2 linked regions of the Homo sapiens genome follow. The protein of the gene in region 1 interacts with the protein of each later gene in a pairwise test. Each region holds a gene or a part of one and is shown in the gene's direction. Other genes may lie near its edges.

The links. The genes of interacting proteins can lie anywhere in the genome.
Region 2: the proteins of RSRC2 (region 1) and CTAG1B interact in binary tests that used the Homo sapiens proteins (3 or more experiments, as listed by UniProt).

What each region holds. Positions count from the first base shown.
Region 1 is NC_000012.12:122,525,286-122,529,228, reverse strand, and holds the start of RSRC2 (arginine/serine-rich coiled-coil protein 2), read left to right. Parts: upstream 1-2,292; 5' UTR 2,293-2,375; coding exon 2,376-2,381; intron 2,382-3,943.
Region 2 is NC_000023.11:154,617,222-154,620,821, reverse strand, and holds CTAG1B (cancer/testis antigen 1), read left to right. Parts: upstream 1-1,539; 5' UTR 1,540-1,603; coding exon 1,604-1,872; intron 1,873-2,548; coding exon 2,549-2,683; intron 2,684-2,922; coding exon 2,923-3,061; 3' UTR 3,062-3,213; downstream 3,214-3,600.

The sequences.
Region 1 (3,943 bases):
CAATGACTAGGCAGCTGTCCTTGGGTGATCACTTAATCTTTCTGTTCCTCAATTCTCTAATTTATAAAATAGGAATATACAGACCAGGCCGGCGCGGTGGCTCACACCTGTAATCCCAGAACTTTGGGAGGCTTAGGCAGGTGGATTATCTGAGGTCAGGAGTTTGAGACCAGCCTGGCCAACATGACGAAACCCCCTCTCTACTAAAAACACAAAAAATTAGCCGGGCGTGGTGGTGTGCGCCTGTAATCCCAGCTACTCAGGAGGCTGAGGCTGTAGAATTGCTTGAACCCGGGAGGCGGAGGTTGCAGTAAGTCGAGATCGTGCCACTTGCACTCCAGCTTGGGCAACAAGAGTGAAACTCCGTCTTGGAAAAAAAATATATATATACAGTTTGCCGTCAATATCCATGTGTTCCACATCCCTAGATTGCACCTACAGGCATAGCACATTTACACTGTTACGCAAGATAAGAAATCAAGAGATGATTTAAAGTATACAGGCAGATGTTCCTAGGCTACATGCAAATACTATGCCATTTAATGACAGGGACTTAAGCATCCTAGGGTTTTGGTATCTGTGGGAGGTCCTGGAACCAATCTCCCATGGATACCAATACCAAGGGACTAATTTAGTTGTACCCACCTGAAGGAGTTTTCTATTTTTCACTTCTGGTTTTTTGAGAGACGAGGGTCTCACTATTTTGCCCTGGCTGGCCTTGATCTCCTGGGCTCAAGCAATCCTTCTGCTTCAGCCTCCAAATGTTTTGAGTTTTAAATGTTCACAGAACAATGCTTGGTTGATGGCAAACATTCAATTTTAGGTGTTAGCTAATTTGTTATTGGGCTGAGAATTGAAGATCATAGTTTTATAAATGTTTAAAGAGTTCTTCCTAAGAGCATAAGCAAGGGAACAGAAACAAAACATGTTTGGAGAATAGAGAAGTTTCAGTGGCTGGTGTTTGGGTGGGAGTGAGGAGATGAAGAAGGAGGGACAGGTTGGAATGAATACCTTTATGGGTCTCAATTTCCCACATCTGTGAAATAGAGAAACCGCCCGTAACTGCCATATTTACTTATTCAACAAATGTTTATTGAATACCTATTTACTATGTGCCAGACACCTTTCTAGGAACTGGGAATATAGCTTGAACAGAACACAAAATGTCTTTGCCATTATGAAGTTTATGTTTTTGCGGGAAAAACGGACAAAAATAAAATTGTTAATACGTATCTTGTTATGCTACCTCCACAAAAAAGCAACTGCACAAATAATTACAAAAAGTGCTAAATGATTTGAAGGAAACAGTGATTAAATGGATAAGGTGAGGCGTCGCTGAAGAAGGATTTGTTTGGGAAGGGAAGGAGGTGACATCTGAGCTGAGACCTGAATAACAAGAAGTACGCAAAACTTAGGCGGAACGCGACGTAGGCAGAGGGAACAGAGTGCAAAGACTCGGAGGCTGGGTAGGAAGCGTTTGATGCTGCTGCCGGGTCAAAGCAAAAGCAGAAGACAGTGAGGGAGAGAGCAGTGGAGTCCAATAAAACCTCGACCTCAAGATTGAATTTTATTCTCAGTACAAGGGGTAGAAGGGGAACTCAGCAAACGAGTGGTCTGATTTTATAATTTTGAGATCACTCTGGCGGCGGAATGCAGAACAGATTCGCGAATACGAGAGAATGAGCAAGATGAAACACTTGTCAGTTAGGCCTCCATACTTAAACGCTCTCCGCTGGACATCGCCGCCAGCAAAAACCGACTCCAACCTCTCTCCTGCCAGCGTCAAGGGGAAAACAACAGGAACTGAGCAGAGGCTGCAGCTACTTCGTCCTGAACCCACCCCCAGTTCCCTACACAGCGCAGCTCCCCGTCCTCACCTGCAATTGAAGAAACTAAAGAGGAACACTCAGATATCTGGCCCCTCTTCCTGACTCACACAACCGCCTCTAGTCTTTAGGTTCCATGCCACAGGCTTAAATTGGCGGGAGAACACTAAACCCAACCCCTTTACGGCGGCCGGAAGAGACCAAGATTACTTTAGACTCGAAATAGGAAGTTGCCCCACCCTGAGTTCCGCCCATTCCGTTCTCCCGACTGCGCATTCCGGGGGTGTATTCTTGGCCCCGCCCTCTTCACGGTCTTTACACTCCCCTATGAAAGAACACCCAATCACCGCCTCGAATTGCGTTGTTATAGAAACTTTTGTTACCGCCCCTTTTTCTCCCAGCAAGCTGTGCGACGCGCCGGGCCTCCTCGCCTTTGTGCCATCCGGGTCTCTCGCGCGAGCGATTTAGTCTGAGGCGAAGCTTCGGAGCGGCCGGTACTGTTGAAAGCGACAAGTGGAGGCGCCGCTCTAGCGGCCGGGACTCTGAACTATGGCGGTAGGTACCGAATCTGAGTTTAAAGCCAGGGATATTTTTCTGCTACGTTCCAACAGTGGGTGAACGGCTCCCAGAACCTTGTTCGTGTGTATGTGTGTAGACAAAATGGCGCCGCGGCCTTCTTCTGCGCCCGCCATCATGGCTGCCTGCTGTAGGGAGGGGGAAGTAAGGCGGTGTTGGTGGGGGTGGGGAGCCGCAGGGAGTGCCTTTTTTTTTCCAGAACTTTCCTCCTCTCTTCCCCAACCCTACGTTCCTTTCGCCTCACTGAACTTCCTCCATTTTCGCTTATTCACCCTGGCTAGTGATTTATTCTAAGTTTTTTTTAGGGCCTGAGAATTTGCGGTGGAGAAAGGGGCTGGGGAAGAGAAAGACGATCAGGAGTGGTCTCTGAAAAGTATTGGGTCAAAAAGGCAGTGTCTGTAAAGGGTAGTGTGGGAGAAGAGAGCGACTTGTAGCTATTTTTTTTTTTGTACGCTCAATGAGATGCTTCTAGTTGCATAATTTCAATTAGTGTTCGTCCGTGTAAACCTTATTATTGTGTATTAACGAGCTAGGAAGGTATTGCTGAAAGGGAGTGAAAATTCAACTTAAAAGGTTGTGGAACTACCAATTCTGACTGATGCGCGGTTTCCGAAGTGGCCCGTGATGTAATCAATTTGAAGTCCGAGAAGCGTTACAGTTAAGTCTTGTCACTGACCTTGTTCCTTTAAATTTAAACCCTTCGTTGGCCGGGCGCGGTGGCTCACGCCTGTAATCCCAGCACTTTGGGAGGCCGAGGCGGGCGGATCACGAGGTCAGGAGATCGAGACCATCCCGGCTAAAACGGTGAAACCCTGTCTCTACTAAAAATACAAAAAAATTAGCCGGGCGTAGTGGCGGACGCCTGTAGTCCCAGCTACTTGGGAGGCTGAGGCAGGAGAATGGCGTGAACCCGGGAGGCGGAGCTTGCAGTGAACCGAGATCCCGCCACTGCACTCCAGCCTGGGTGACAGAGCGAGACTCCGTCTCAAAAAAAAAAAAAAAAAAAAAAAAAAAAAAAAAAAAAACTCTTCGTTGACCCCAGAGGAGCTACAGTTCGTAAATTATCTATTCTGAACAATAAGCCTGCGTGTGTATAAGATACCCAATTCTGACGGATCCACATTATTTTGTGCTTACCTCATTTTTATTCCGTTAAAAGGAAAATGTAAAGATTTTGCATTCCTTTTTACTGACTAAAAAATTACATCATTTTCGATAATAATTATGACTCTTAAACATAGTGATAGTTTTAAAGTTTGCTCTTCCTAACGATTGGAATGCCTGGGATTAGGCAGATGATTTTCTTTTTCCCCCATACCCCTCTATTATTTAGGTGATTGAGTTTAAACCCGTTTCTTTTACTGTCTTCCTTTGTTTAGTGTTTTGGGCCTCAGTATACTTAAAGAGTAATACTATTTTTCTTGGGTTGCAGGTTTTTTTGTATTTTTTCGAGACGGAGTTTTGCTCTTGTCGCCCAGGCTGGAGTGCGATGGCGCGATCTTGGCTCACTGCAACCTCCGCCTCCCGGGTTCAAGCGATTC
Region 2 (3,600 bases), on another chromosome or scaffold:
GAAATATATGTAATGAAATACAGCAGTGAAAATAATAAACTGGAGGTACACGCAAGAGCTTGGGTGAATTTTTCTTTTCTGTAAGTAAAAACATTTTTAACTGATGTATGATAACTCTGCATATTTATGGGATACATGTGATATTCTGATACATGCACACGCACACACGATGTAATGATCAAGTCGGGGTATTTAGGATCTCCACCACCTCAAGCATTTATCATTTCTTTTTTTGGGGAACATTTCCTATCTTTTAGCTATTTTGAAATATACAATAAATAATTACCTATAGTCCCTCTACGGTGCTATCAAACACTAGAACTTAATCCTTCTATGCAACTATATGTTTGTCCCCATTAACCTCCCCACCCTCCCCACCTTTCCCAGCGTCTGGTAACCATCATTCTGCTCTACCTCCAAAAGATCAACGTTTTTAGTTTCCACATGAGTGCCAATATGCTTTTCCCAGGTGCAGAGGCTGCTGATTCCTGGATTTGGAAGGTGGGGGAGAGTGGTTTGGATTTCAGTACCTCCCCCTTCCTCAGGGCTAGGCCCTGTCTGGTCACCTCCTGTTGCTACAGGTGTGCCTGGCACAGACATTCAGCTCCCGGGGCCGTGCCGCCCTCACCCCTGCATGCCTCTAGAGGTACCTGTCCCGTGGATTTGACCCCCTTCCAGACACACAAATAGATCACCACTGAGCAGACACAGGGTCACCTCCCAGCTCCCTACCAGGCAAGAGCGACCAGGGCAGGGACTGATACTGCCGAACCCAGGAGCCAGGCCCGACCCAGCCTCAGGTCCAGCAGGTCCCGCCTGTCCACCTGGGCCAGGCCTAGAGCCCGGGAGCCCCTGGCTGGTGGGAGGCCACCCGCAACCCACCCCACACGCAGCTCCAGCTCCCCCACCAGGCGGGGCGACTAGGACAGGGACAGAACCCGTTGAACCCAGGAGTGAGATCCGGCCCCGGGTCCCGCTGGGCCCTCCCGTCCACCTTGGCTGGACCTGGCGCCTGGGAGACCTTGGCTGGCGCGAGGCCACGCCCACCAGACATGCAGTTCCAGCTACCCCACCAGCTGGGCGACCAGGACAGGGACGGAGGCTGCTGAGCCCAGTTAGAGGCCTGCCCCCCGGGGTCTGTCCTGGGCGCTCCCCCAAGGACGGACAGGGCAGGCAGGGTCCGGGACGATGGCCGCACAGTCCCGGCCCCGTGTTCCCAGGCCCGTCTTGCTCCTCGATGTGAGGGAGACCCGGGGGATGGGACAGGCTGGGCCCCGCAGTGCCTGACTCCCTGCAGGGCTCCCGGGACAGGGGTCCGGCGGACAGCCGGCTGCTCAGGGGTGAGGGGTCCAAGCTGGCATTGCGGCCACCTTCCGGCCCGGGCTCTCTTGGGGAGGGGCGGGGTTGGTGAGAACCGGTCACGTGCTCCGGGGCTCACTCGGGGTCTCCCAGGGCCGGAAGTAGGGCCCCTGTGCGCAGGCGCCCTGAGGATCCCGGGCTGCCCATCTCACGCCAGGGGGCGGAACTTCCTGCAGCCTCTCTGCCTCCGCATCCTCGTGGGCCCTGACCTTCTCTCTGAGAGCCGGGCAGAGGCTCCGGAGCCATGCAGGCCGAAGGCCGGGGCACAGGGGGTTCGACGGGCGATGCTGATGGCCCAGGAGGCCCTGGCATTCCTGATGGCCCAGGGGGCAATGCTGGCGGCCCAGGAGAGGCGGGTGCCACGGGCGGCAGAGGTCCCCGGGGCGCAGGGGCAGCAAGGGCCTCGGGGCCGGGAGGAGGCGCCCCGCGGGGTCCGCATGGCGGCGCGGCTTCAGGGCTGAATGGATGCTGCAGATGCGGGGCCAGGGGGCCGGAGAGCCGCCTGCTTGAGTTGTATTCTGTTCTGTTCTGTTCTGTTCTGTTCTGACAGTTCTGGTGGCGAGGTGGGGGCCGGGAGATGGGGAGGGCAGGGCCAGGTGGGGGAGGAGGCGGGGGAGATGCGAGTAAGTGGTTGGGTGGGGGTGGGGGTGGGGGTTGGGAGGTGGGGATATGAGAGGCCAGCTGCGAGGAGGGGAGGAGGTAAGGGCTGGGAGGTAGAGGGGGTGGGGGTGGGGGAGAGGGGCTGGGTGATTGGGTGAGGGGCACCGGGTCATGCGGGGAGGGGAGCAGGGGCCAGGAGATAGGGGGACCCAGGTGTAGGAGGGGATCAGGAGGTGGGGGGAAGGGGGCAAGATGGGAGCGGGTGGCGGGAGGTGGTTGGGATGGAGGGTCGAGTGATGAGGAGGGGGCCGGGTGATGCCACAGGGGGCAGGGTGGGGAGGGGTCTTGTAAGGGCATGGAGGAGTCAGCTTGGGGTGCAGCAAAGGAAAGTGGGGAACCAAGACAGCTGGGTGGGGTGTGCTACTGGGCCAGTGCCTGGGGAGACAGCCTGGGGGGGATGGGCTGGGCAATCCGGGGTAGGGGGGAGGGGTGGGGGAGTGGGGGAGGGGGAAGCTGGCCTGGGGTAAGCAGCAGGCCGGAGCCACAGGCCAAGTCCTAGGAGAGGATGCCTTAACTGGGCCCCCACCAGCTACCTCGCCATGCCTTTCGCGACACCCATGGAAGCAGAGCTGGCCCGCAGGAGCCTGGCCCAGGATGCCCCACCGCTTCCCGTGCCAGGGGTGCTTCTGAAGGAGTTCACTGTGTCCGGCAACATACTGACTATGTCAGTTCAGGACCAGGACAGGGATGGGGCCTGGGTGGGTGGCGGTCACAGCGTGGCAGGGTGGGGGCTGGGATCCGCCTACACCCCACGGTCAGGCTGCTAGAAACCTGGGAACACCCCAGCACAGGGTCTCAGAACAGAGACCTGGTACACCAGGCCCGCCGCCACCCGAGGGAGCCCAGGGAGATGGGTGCAGAGGTGTCGCCTTTAACGTGATGTTCTCTGCCCCTCACATTTAGCCGACTGACTGCTGCAGACCACCGCCAACTGCAGCTCTCCATCAGCTCCTGTCTCCAGCAGCTTTCCCTGTTGATGTGGATCACGCAGTGCTTTCTGCCCGTGTTTTTGGCTCAGCCTCCCTCAGGGCAGAGGCGCTAAGCCCAGCCTGGCGCCCCTTCCTAGGTCATGCCTCCTCCCCTAGGGAATGGTCCCAGCACGAGTGGCCAGTTCATTGTGGGGGCCTGATTGTTTGTCGCTGGAGGAGGACGGCTTACATGTTTGTTTCTGTAGAAAATAAAACTGAGCTACGATTCCGTGTCTGAGTCTCTTTTCGGCGAGCGAAGGCACCTTCGGACTTGCATGCCCTTGTCCTCGGGTTGCAGGGGAGGCTCTGGGATTCACAGATTGAAGTAGCACAAGGTAACGGGAGGCAATTTGGGAAATGGGGGAAAATGAAAAGCCACTGGGTCCCGCCATTCAGCATTAACTACTGTGGACATTTTAGAATATTTTCCTCAATATACTTGCATTTATATGTTAAATATATGACAGTAGCATATATAATGTTTTTCCAGGTCAGCATTAAATTTTTTCCCAAATTGTTTTCATTGAACATATGAGCTTTTTTACTTGGGAAAAATTCTTTGAAAACGTACTTGAATAGATGCATAGAACCAGCATTATCATATCACTGTTAA